Linked DNA regions of Homo sapiens: region 1 is linked to region 2. Evidence: fine-mapped expression QTL. A gene starts in region 2. The other region holds a variant in brackets. All regions are shown on one strand. Distances are between the middles of the regions. Region 1 has its middle 22 kb from the start of LINC00370. Region 2 holds the start of MYO16-AS1 (MYO16 antisense RNA 1).

Region 1 (5,536 bases), 140 kb after region 2:
AGAGAACTGTGGGCAAGATCATGATGCCTTTTGAGGTGTACTTTTGAAAGTTTATTCTCATGGTAGTGCAGACGAAGGAACAGGAGCAGGTGAATTCTGGTGGCTTGTCTATAGTTATTGTCAAGAAACTGAACTAAAGTCATGAGATAATTTAAATAAATCTGGACAGAAGAAGCTATAATTTGGAAAAGAAGTGAGCTCCACCTTGTTTTAAAAGCTGAGCCTTGACCATCTCAGCTCAGGTGAGAGAGACGTGATTCTTGTAGGATCTCTGGCCCCCCGCCTCTGGGGAGCTGGATTGATGGTGAGCTGGTGGCTAGCTCCAGGGAACTGGCAGTGAGTTGTGCAGGTGTTAACATGCTGGTAACAGGCCACGAGGATCACCACAACCCTGCGTTCTCCCCTCTTTTGAAGGTGACATATGTACTTGCCTCTAATAGAGAATGAGAGATTCCTCCAGAGAATATGGGTCATTGGCAACTGGGCTTTGCCTTAGTAAGTGCATGTGCACACATAGGGTAAAAAAGCTCCAAAATCTGTGTTAAGAATGCAACTGTGCACTGGAAATCAGACTCTGGGTTCCAGCAGCAGCTGTCTTGGGACTGCAGGCTCCTGCTGAGCAGCCCCTCTCCTGTGTGACTGGGATTGGTATCATGTGCCTCCCCCAGGAGAGCTCCTGGCATCTGTTCAGAACCTGCTCTGGGAGCCATGAAAGGCTTGCTTGCGATCTGAGCCTCCTATTAGGAGATGACAATACTCGTGGTGCTAGACTCGGAAATCACCATATGTGCCACCATCTTGCAACCATCTGTGGCCAAAAACAATATAATTCTGACCAGACGTAAGGGCCAGACTTCCAGCCAGCTACTCTGTTTTGATCAAATGAACCCTCCTACCAACCTCAGGAAGTCTGCCGACCATTTGTGTTTTGCATAAGGCCACTTTGAGTGAAAGATGGCACTGATCTACCCTGGATTGTTGAAGTAAGTCCCTCAGTCCCCCTGGCCTCAGCAGGGGCTTGGCTTTGAGTCAGCTCTCCTGGGAGTCTTGATTTCTCCTAAGAGTCCCAGACTCCAAGCCTGCACAGGTTTATTGTCTGCTCACATGTGTTTTTGCTTGGATCTAGACAAAGCTCATATTGGGCTTTAGCACTGAAAATCAAAGATGGGTTTCAGGGGATATGAAAGGGAGGTATCAATGGTAAAGAAATTCTCCTGTAAAAAAATAAAACAACTGTATTTCTACATTATAAGTGCTGTATTTGTAAAGACAATGTGGAATCATGTTATCTTTGTGAGTAATCAATATTAGTTTAATAAAGACCTACAGAAATCTAAATTATCTTCTACATAGTCAGTCATCACAGCTACCCTCTTTCATAGAACCATTACTTCCAAAACTATACACACATCTAGAATACATAGTTTTATCATTTTGCTACAAACCATTAAAGTTTTATGAGACACTGAACTGTCATTGAATAGTAAGAGTTTTTAAATGCATTTGTAGAGCTAAGATTTAAGCAAGGTTAGATATACTACTGTGACAAATATTTATAAAACAGAAATATTTTTATAATAAAGCTTTAAAGACATCTTGAATATATCTGTTTCTTTTCCTTTTGGTCTAGTTAGGTGGGAAAAATTACAGTCCTTGGCATCTTAATTAAAATAATATTATAATGTTAGCAAAACAAAACAATCATTCAACATATTCATGTGGTAATTACATTAAAAAAAGATTACTCTCCATTATTCTTCCTGATTGTACTAAGCCATCTGTGCTTGTAAAAATAATAATAGACAATGAATATCATATGCCATATGTACTATGCTGTTTAATACTAATTAAGCAATAATCCTAAAGCAATCACTTGTTAACAGTGATCATTGTTTAAAGATAATTATTTTGTAATAAATGATAATCAATTATTTATAATATTAACAATAGTTTTATTAAGTTTTTTACCTTCAAAAATTGCTGGTGGCCATCGCCTGTCTCATCAGCCACGTCGTAAATTAGTAATTCTATTCTGTTAATGACAGGTTTTCCATGAATCAAAATTCTGGTTATGGTCTACTATATTTGTAATATGTGTGTATTGTATTCTCAAAAATAAGACTGCTATAAATAGCTCATCTACCTTGTTATTAAAAATAAATGGCTTTAGTAAAACTTGTAGTGAATGTGAAATGTGGAGGGATCAATATCAAGAAGCACAACATAAACGTGAAAATAGCAGAGTGTTATGGCCCCAGTAAGAATATGTTGATAGAAAGCCACATAATTGAATTTAATTTGGGGAAGGTGGGAAAACTAAACTATAACTGCCTATTCCAGTTATTTATTTTCCAAATATATTACTACAGATTTTAGCTTTAGACAACCTACTAAGTCATTTCGAGAAATGACGTATAATCTTAAAGTGGGGCATCCCTTTTAACAGAGGGGTGACTAACTAAACAATGAAAAAATTTAGGATTCTTATGATTCAAAGCAAGTATTTTGTTTTACTTTTAATATGGCAAAAATAATGTGTTGGAGTATGCTTTGGGAATTTCATATTTAAGGAACAAACCACTTGGTACAGTCTCTTTACTCTGAGTTGCTGTCCTGACAATAAAATGCCCAGTAGAACACGTTCAACCATCTCTAGATCAGTGTTTCTCAACTAGGAGTGATGTTGTCCACTGGGGGGGGTTTGGGAGCATCTGGGGACATTTTTGGTTGTCATAGATGGGGAGGGTGCTCATCGCATCCAGCAGGTAGAGTCCAGGGATGCTGCCCAACACCTGCTAGGCACAGCGCAGCCCACCACAAGGAATCATTTGCCTAAGATGTCAATAACACCGAGGTGGAGAAAGCCTCATTTAGATTACTTGTTTTGCAGTTCAATAATTCACAAAGGAATTAAAGCATTTCAACTTTGAAAGTTTCAAAGCAGAATGGAAATACCTAACTTCCAGGAACGCTGTCCCTCTTTCTTTCCACCAGAGGAAAGAAGAAGCAACCCAGGGACAAAAATTCTCCCTTCAAGATAGGATATTAAACTGCAAGTAGGAAAGTAAGACCGAAATCTCCTCTGGCTATTTTATACAAAAAAAAAAAAAAACTTTATTAAAGAAAATTAGGTAGCTCAAGAGATCATCACT[A/T]GGGCTGCCTTAAGAGGACAGCGGCTAAGCTTCTTCCAATGATGCTGTGAGCCACATCACAGAAACTCCATTTCTGCAGCTGCTGCCAATGCCAGCACATCTGGTAGCTGGGACTGCAGCCTCTATCATCACCCAGAGAAGGAGAGACCCCTGCAGAGGCTTCACGCTTTCTTTGAGTATTGCAAAACCAAGAGCAGTTATCTCTTATGGAGGACCGAGGGCATGTAGACACCACGGCTTCAAGGGGACAGCAGAAGAACTCGTGTACCTTCTGGAGACAGGATTCGTGATACAAGAGCCTATCTGAGTGTGGTGCTGTTCAAAGGATGACTTGCGGCCACAGACAGTGGTGCTTTCTACTGATCTGGGGGCCACACAGCGGAAACAAAAGAAATCTGATCGATTTGCTTTCGGAAATAATAGAGCTGGAATGATTGCATCTCAGCACTTCAGGGTTGTAAAGGATAGAAGATATTATTTATTCTGAATATGATTCCTCTTCACCTCCAGCCTCTGCTTCCATCGATGTTCAGTTTATCTCTCTTATTTTTTCTCTTTCTTCCTTTGGTCCACCAATAAATACCTATTGAATGATTACTTTCTGCAAGCCTGTTCTAAAGGACATTGCAGGAAGTAAAAGAGGCATCATCCATGCATGTGTTTTTCAGATCTGGGGAGAGAAATTTTAAAAAATACGCAAAGTTTTTAAAGTATCTCCAGCTCTTCAAACTTGGGAACTAAACACATACACGTACACGTTTGAATAAATCTCTTGTTATCCAAATTCTTGTTACTTGCTGTCCAAAATTCCAGCACCAAGCAAATTCGGATAATGTATTATCGCCTTCTACTCAAACTCGGTATCCCAACTCAGGAATCAAATAGAACTGAGATGTGAAGGAAACTCACGGTTTTTCAGATGGTTTTCAGATGGTGATAAATGCCATAGAGAAAAGTGAAACGATGTGGCAGGGGGTGATAGTGATAGTCATGGCAGGGAGGGGAGAGCTGCAGCTGTAAATAGTGTGCATGGCCACAGTGAAAAGGTGATACTAGGGAGGAGTTCCAAGCAGAGAGAGAAGCAGGTGCAATCATTTAGGAGAGGGAGACTTCTGCTGGGCTTGAAGCACTGCAAGGCAGCCAGGAAGTTTAGGACAAGAGGAGACAGAAGATATCAGAGAAGTAGCTGAGCTCAGATCAGGAAAGCTTTGAAGACCTTTGTAGGAATTTTGGTTTCAGAGACGAATGAAGACTCATTGAAGGGTTTTGAGCAAAGAAATGGTGAAAGTGTGCGGACAAGTATTTAGAGGGATCACTGTGTTGAAAAGGTACTGTAGGAACATGAGAATTAATGCTGGGAGCCAGTTAGAAGGCGAGTGCAATAATCTCTGTGTGCCCTGATGGTGGCCGAGACCAGCCAATGGAATTGGTAAAGTCAGATTCTGAATACGTTTTGAAGACAGAGCCACAACAACTTCCTGGTGGATTAGAAAGATGATGTGACAAAAAAAAAAGTCATAGATGACTCCAAGAATTATTGTTAGAGAAACTAGAAAGATGATAGAAAACACCAAAGCAAGGAAAGGACATGTGTGCATTTGTGTGCCTGTGCCTGTGTGTGTGTGTGTGTGTGTGTGCTCATGTTAAGAGGCAGTGGTTCTGTTTTGCACATGCTGCACTGGAGGTACTTCTTAGACGTTCAAGTGTAAATATTGAAGGAAATATGCATCTGTGGTTTAGGGGGAGTTTTGAACTGAAGATAGGCATTTGGGAGTCCTCAGAATAGGGGTGTTATTTAAAGGAGTGCCTGAAGTCACCAGGGGAATTCATGAGGATAAAGAAGGGAACCAGGCCCAGAATCCTGGCATGCTCCAGTGCTGGGAAGTTGGTAGTGATGTGGAGGAATCATCGAAGGAGACCAAGATGCAGCAACTGAGAAGCAGAAGAAAACACAGAAAGTCTTTTTGGTTTTTCATGGATTTACAAATTAAATATGTGAGGCACTGCTGAAAACTCAAAGAGAGGAAGGCTTCGAATTGCTCATTGTGAGCAGCAACATGGAAGCCATCAGCACCGGTCCAGAGTGGCTTCAGCAGAAGGGAGAGTGAGAGCGGAAGAAAGTGTGAGACAGGATGGAGGGGAATGGGAGATAACAGAAGAGAAAGTGTAGGGAGCTTTGCCGTCGAGGGAGAAGAGAAATGAGCAAGCAGTCGGAGCAATGGGATGCAGAAAATAACTGCACATTTAGATGGTGATAAGAATGATTCCGCGGAGAACGAGAGCGGACGATGGAGAAGAACAAACTTCTAATTAGCCATAGGAAGGTCCTATGGGATGAACTGGGTTTTACCCTTAATAGGTCACTTGCCACCTTTGACTAAGCC
Region 2 (5,000 bases):
TGTTGACTTTTCCGAAATTTTATGGAGTGTTAATCTAAAAGAACTGGTCCAAAATTAGTCTTATACTGAGCAGAAGAAGGCAATAGATTCTCTACCAATATTTTTAATTAAAAAATTATTCTGGAAACTAAGAAATGTGAAGGAAAATAATATTAAAGAAATGATAAGTGCCAGACTGGCTTCAGGTATTTTAAGTACATCAATGAGTGCCACATTTAGAAAGTGGCTTGATTGCAGGTACAAAAGCTGAGGATCACGCAAGTATTTTCTCTCACAAATAAAAGAAGACAAAGGCGTCTGGGAATAACTGATGGGAAGACTCAGACCAACTATTCCTGAGGGCCTCCCGCAGGGCTGGGAAAAGCATGTTTGTTTAGTCTAATTAGAGGCGTGGGAGAACCATCATGATGCTGAAATGCTGGGAAGCAGTTGAAGACCTGGGAGTGGGGTGCAAGGTGAGCCGAAGCAAGGAAGCCCACACTTGAAGCTTGGCTCATGGGGACATAAGGGTACCCACATTGTTCAGAGAAGGCAGCTAAGAAGTCAAGTTGTGCTTCTGACTGCCTTCTCAAATTACAGGGCAAGAAACTGAGTCGTGGCCCCACCAAGGCCTTGGGGTGGGGCCTTCAAGTGTTCTTCCCAAGAGTCAGAGTGAACCAGAACCAAGAACCATGTTGAGTTGCCCAGATGTAACCAGGCCTACAGGTACCTGGGAGAAACACGTGTACATTTTCCCCAAAGGGCAGTAATAGCATCCTAGGCTTCAAAACATTCATAGAAACCATTTTTCAAATGCAAAGTCCAACACAGTTAGAAATAACCAGGCATAGGAGCACACAAAATAAGATAAAAAATTAAAAGCAGAGACGGCAGCCAATTGCAATATGTCCACAGGGATTCAAAAGGTTGGAATTCAAAGACACATGCCTTAAAATAAGTATGTTTACTCAGCCCCCCACGAAATAAAACAACGAGAATTTCAGCAGAAATAGGAAACTATAAGGAAATCGTCAAATGGAAATTCTGAAATTGGAAAATGCAGTAATAAAATTGAGTACAACAGAGGATAAAGTTAAATTTAATTAGATATAGTTGTTTAAAAACAAAACAAATAAAAAATAACTGGAGAAGTGGAAGATAACTCAGAAAATCCCCAGAATGAAACAGATTGAAGCAAAAGGGAAGAATGGAAACTCCAGACAATGGTTTAGAGATATAAAGGGCAATGAGGAGGATGATTGAAGTCTTAGGGAAAGAAGAGGGAGCGCATGAGCAGAAGAAAGACTTGGTGAGAAATGTTAGAGCATCTCCCAATGCTGACGAAAGAGCACCAGGAAACAGATTTAAGTTGGCAGATTTTTATAACATTCAACATACATTCTTCACGGGATCCAGCAATCTGACTCCTCAGTATCTTCCCAAGAGAAATGACAGCAGTGTCCACACAAACACCTGTATGCAAATGCATATGGTGACATTATTCATAATCACATAAAACTGGAAATAAATTCAGTGTCTTTCAACTGATGACTGGCTTGTATTAGTGATCCATCACTGTGCAAAATATTACTCCCAAAACTTGGAGGCTTATATAAGAAATGGTTATTATTTCATAGTTTCTGTGGGCCAGGAAGCTGTGTGTGGCTTAGCAGGGTGCCTTTGGTTTAAGGTCCCCCATGAGACAGCAATCAAGCTGTCAGCCAAGACCACAGTCATCTTGAGACTTGAGTGAAGGCTGATCCATTTTCAAGGTCACTCACGTGGCTATTGGCAGGCCACAGAAGGTTCACATCCAAGTCAACTCACATGGGCAGCCTCCCAGCACAGCAGCTCTCCCCACATCCCTGAGCAAGCAATCCAAGAGAGAGCACCCCAGATGGAGGCTGCAGTCTTCACATAACCCAGTCTTGAAAATGACACCCCAGCACTCTGTCACGTTTGATTGAGTCACTAAATCCAGGCCACACTCAATGGGTGGGGAGTCCGTGAGTGCCTGGAGGTGGGCTCACCAGCATCTCACAGGCTGAACTAGCACATGGATGAAGCCTGCAATAAATAAGAGTGATCAACTATAATGAGCATCATAAAAAAAAGGGATGGCTAAAGCATTGTGTTGAGGTTAAAAAAAAAAAATCAAAAGACTAAGTGTGATCCTGCTTATGTAACATTTGGGGAAAAGCAAAGCTGGAGACAGAAAACAGCTGAGTGGTTGCTGGAGGCTGGGCGTAATGGCAGGAGATGAAGTTCAGAAGGACATGTGGTGTTATAGACAACCTGGAGTGCTCATGTCTGCAGATGCACAGATGTGTATGTCTAAAAAAGGTGAATCTCACTGTCTCTAAATTACACCATAATCAATCCAACGTTTGTAAAAATGAAACAGAAACCTTTGCAAAGCCTAAGTAGGATACATAAAACTTTCCTAGGTGTATCATAGTAAAACACCTATAAAATAAAGACCGAGAATTAATTTTAAAAGCAGTTAGAGGTAAAAATATGTACTATCTTCGAAAAGTAGCAACTGAAGTCCAAAGACAATGAAATAACATAGTTAACATGCTCAAATAAAATAACTGCCCCCCAAAAATTCCTGTAATAATGAAAGGGAGTTAAGGATATTTTTAGGAAAAAAAATAAAAATGAAAGGAATTAAACACTGACAGACTCAGAATGCTTAGAGATAAAGGAAAGAATAAAGAATAACTAAAAAGGCAGTAAAATTTGGAGGGGTAAAATAATATTTAATATTATACACTGATAAACCTACCTTGCCAGTTGTAACCTCAAAGGTAACCCCTGAAAGAATATTAGTGGGGTAGATAATATCCAAACTAGTAAAGAGAGAAAAATAAAATCATAAAAAGTCAACTCAAAAGATGCAAAAAGGGGATAAAATAGGAAAAATAGGGCAAGGAGAAAGTTCTGAGACAGTAGATATGAAAACACATGTGAAAATAAACTTTATTTAATTATAATAAACTTTAAAAGGCTTATTTAATGTAAACTTATATGAAAAATGATTAGCAGAATATTTTAAAAACTAAGTTTTCTGAAAACAGTAAAACATAAGGATTCTGAAAGAGTAAATGTAAAGGGATAGAAAAGAAAAAGATACAATGTGCAAATATTAAAAAGCAGCAAAAACAGTGCTCATATATTTGAACGTCAAAAATTACATCTCTAGGCCAGGCGCGGTGGCTCACGCCTGCAATCCCAGCACTTTGGGAGGCCGAGGCAGGCAGATCACCTGAGGTCAGGAGTTCGAGACCAGCCTGGCCAACATGGTGAAACCCCCATCTCTACTAAAAATACAAAAATCAGCTGGGCTTGGTGGTATATGCCTTTAATCCCGGCGACTCGGAAAGCTGAGGTAGGAGAATTGCTTGAACCCAGGAGGCGGAGTTTGCAGTGAGCCCTGATCGCGCCACTGCACTCCAGCCTGGGTGACAGAGCCAGACTTTGTCTAAAAAAATAAGATAAAATAAAATCTCTAAGTAATCAATGTATTCAAGAAGAAATCACAAAATAAATTAAAAAGCAAAATATTTTAACTAATGACAATGCAAATATGACAACAGAACTTTTAGGACATGTCTAATGTCTTTTGTGTATGAGTGGAAGGGGCTCGGGTACAGTGTCGGTATGGTCAATATGTGGCTGTATGGCATCGTGGCCATGGCTGGGCTTTTAGTGTCCACATCAACTGAATAGTATATATTGTCCTGATTAAGTCGTTTCATATGCTTCATTCCATCCCATCCTCCCACCTTGCCACCCTTCTGAGTCTCCAGTGTCTATTATTCCACACTCTGTGCCCAAGTGTACACGTTATTTAGCTCCCACTTATAAGTGAGAACATGTAGCATTTTTCTTTCTGTGTCTTAGTTATTTCACCTAAGATAATGGCCTCCAGTTCCATCCATGTTACTGCAAAAGATCTCTTAAGAAATGGAAATGTATGGCTTCAAACCTTTGCATCACAAGAGAACAAATACGATGAGTGTTAAAAGGGTCTAGAAATTAGAAACAGAACAAAAACTAAATACTATGAAAATGGAAGGAAAGATATGATAGTGATAATAAGAACATAAGTTATTGAAATATAAAACAAATAAAATAATGTGAAGGGATAGAAAGGAAGGAAAGAGAAAGTTGTTTATCTTTTAAAAAATTATCTTTGAAAACAATAAGATTGAAAATTTTCTTGCAAGGGGATAGAGAAATAGAGAAAATTGGCACAAATAACAGATTTTAGATTGAAAAGGGGACATCAATACAGATCTGGCTGAAATTAAAAATAGTAAGAGAATATTACAAACAGTTTTACACCAAGATAAATTTACAAATTTACATAAACAAATACATTCTTAAAAAAAAAAGAACTAACGAAAATGGACAAAAGAAGTAGGAAAGCTAAATAACACCGTAAATGTTAAATTAATGGAATTTGTAATTGAATGCCTTCCTACAAGGAAAATTCCAGAATCAGATGGTTTCTCCACTAAATGTTTCCAAAATTCTAAGGATTAAATAACTCCAATGTCACGTACACGCTTTCAGAGAATAGGAAGGAAGGAGAAAGAAAATAATATTACTCCAGCTTGCATAATTAGCCACTTAATTTATGACAAAATTGGCATGTGAGAGCACTGGGGAAGAATAATTGATTGCTATCCATGTGGAGCAAACAGTGAAACTCGACTCTGCCTAATGCTATACACACAACAATTCCTGATAGATTATAGATCTGTATGTCAAATGTCAAATCATAAAATGGATAGAAGAAACAATAGGAGAGTATCTTTCTTACTTCATAAAAGGAAAGAAGGGCTTGTTAAGCAAGACACAAAAGTTTTAACCATAAAGAAAAAAGAAAAAAAAAAACATAAATAGGGAGAAAATATTTTTAACACATTTACCCAACAAAGGCTAATATTCAACGTTTATTTAAATTAAAAACAAAAGACAGCTGAAAAGAAAATTGGACAGAATATGTGAAT

The links. PIP is the estimated chance that this variant, and not a neighbour inherited with it, causes the effect. A credible set is the group of variants that fine-mapping cannot tell apart.
Region 1: its variant is the best candidate, but not a certain one, in a credible set for the expression of MYO16-AS1 in whole blood (INTERVAL, PIP 0.59).

What each region holds. Positions count from the first base shown.
Region 1 is chr13:109,301,156-109,306,691 of GRCh38, forward strand. No RefSeq gene overlaps it. Among named protein-coding and RNA genes, the nearest start is that of LINC00370, 22 kb to the left of the region's middle. The variant A/T (reference allele first, on the strand shown) is at 3,153.
Region 2 is chr13:109,165,259-109,170,258 of GRCh38, forward strand. It overlaps MYO16-AS1 (MYO16 antisense RNA 1), which reads right to left and starts at 2,045. Exons shown (of 3, transcript NR_047700.1): 1 at 1,761-2,045; 2 at 1,378-1,452. All of the region lies in intron 33 of MYO16 (myosin XVI), which reads left to right.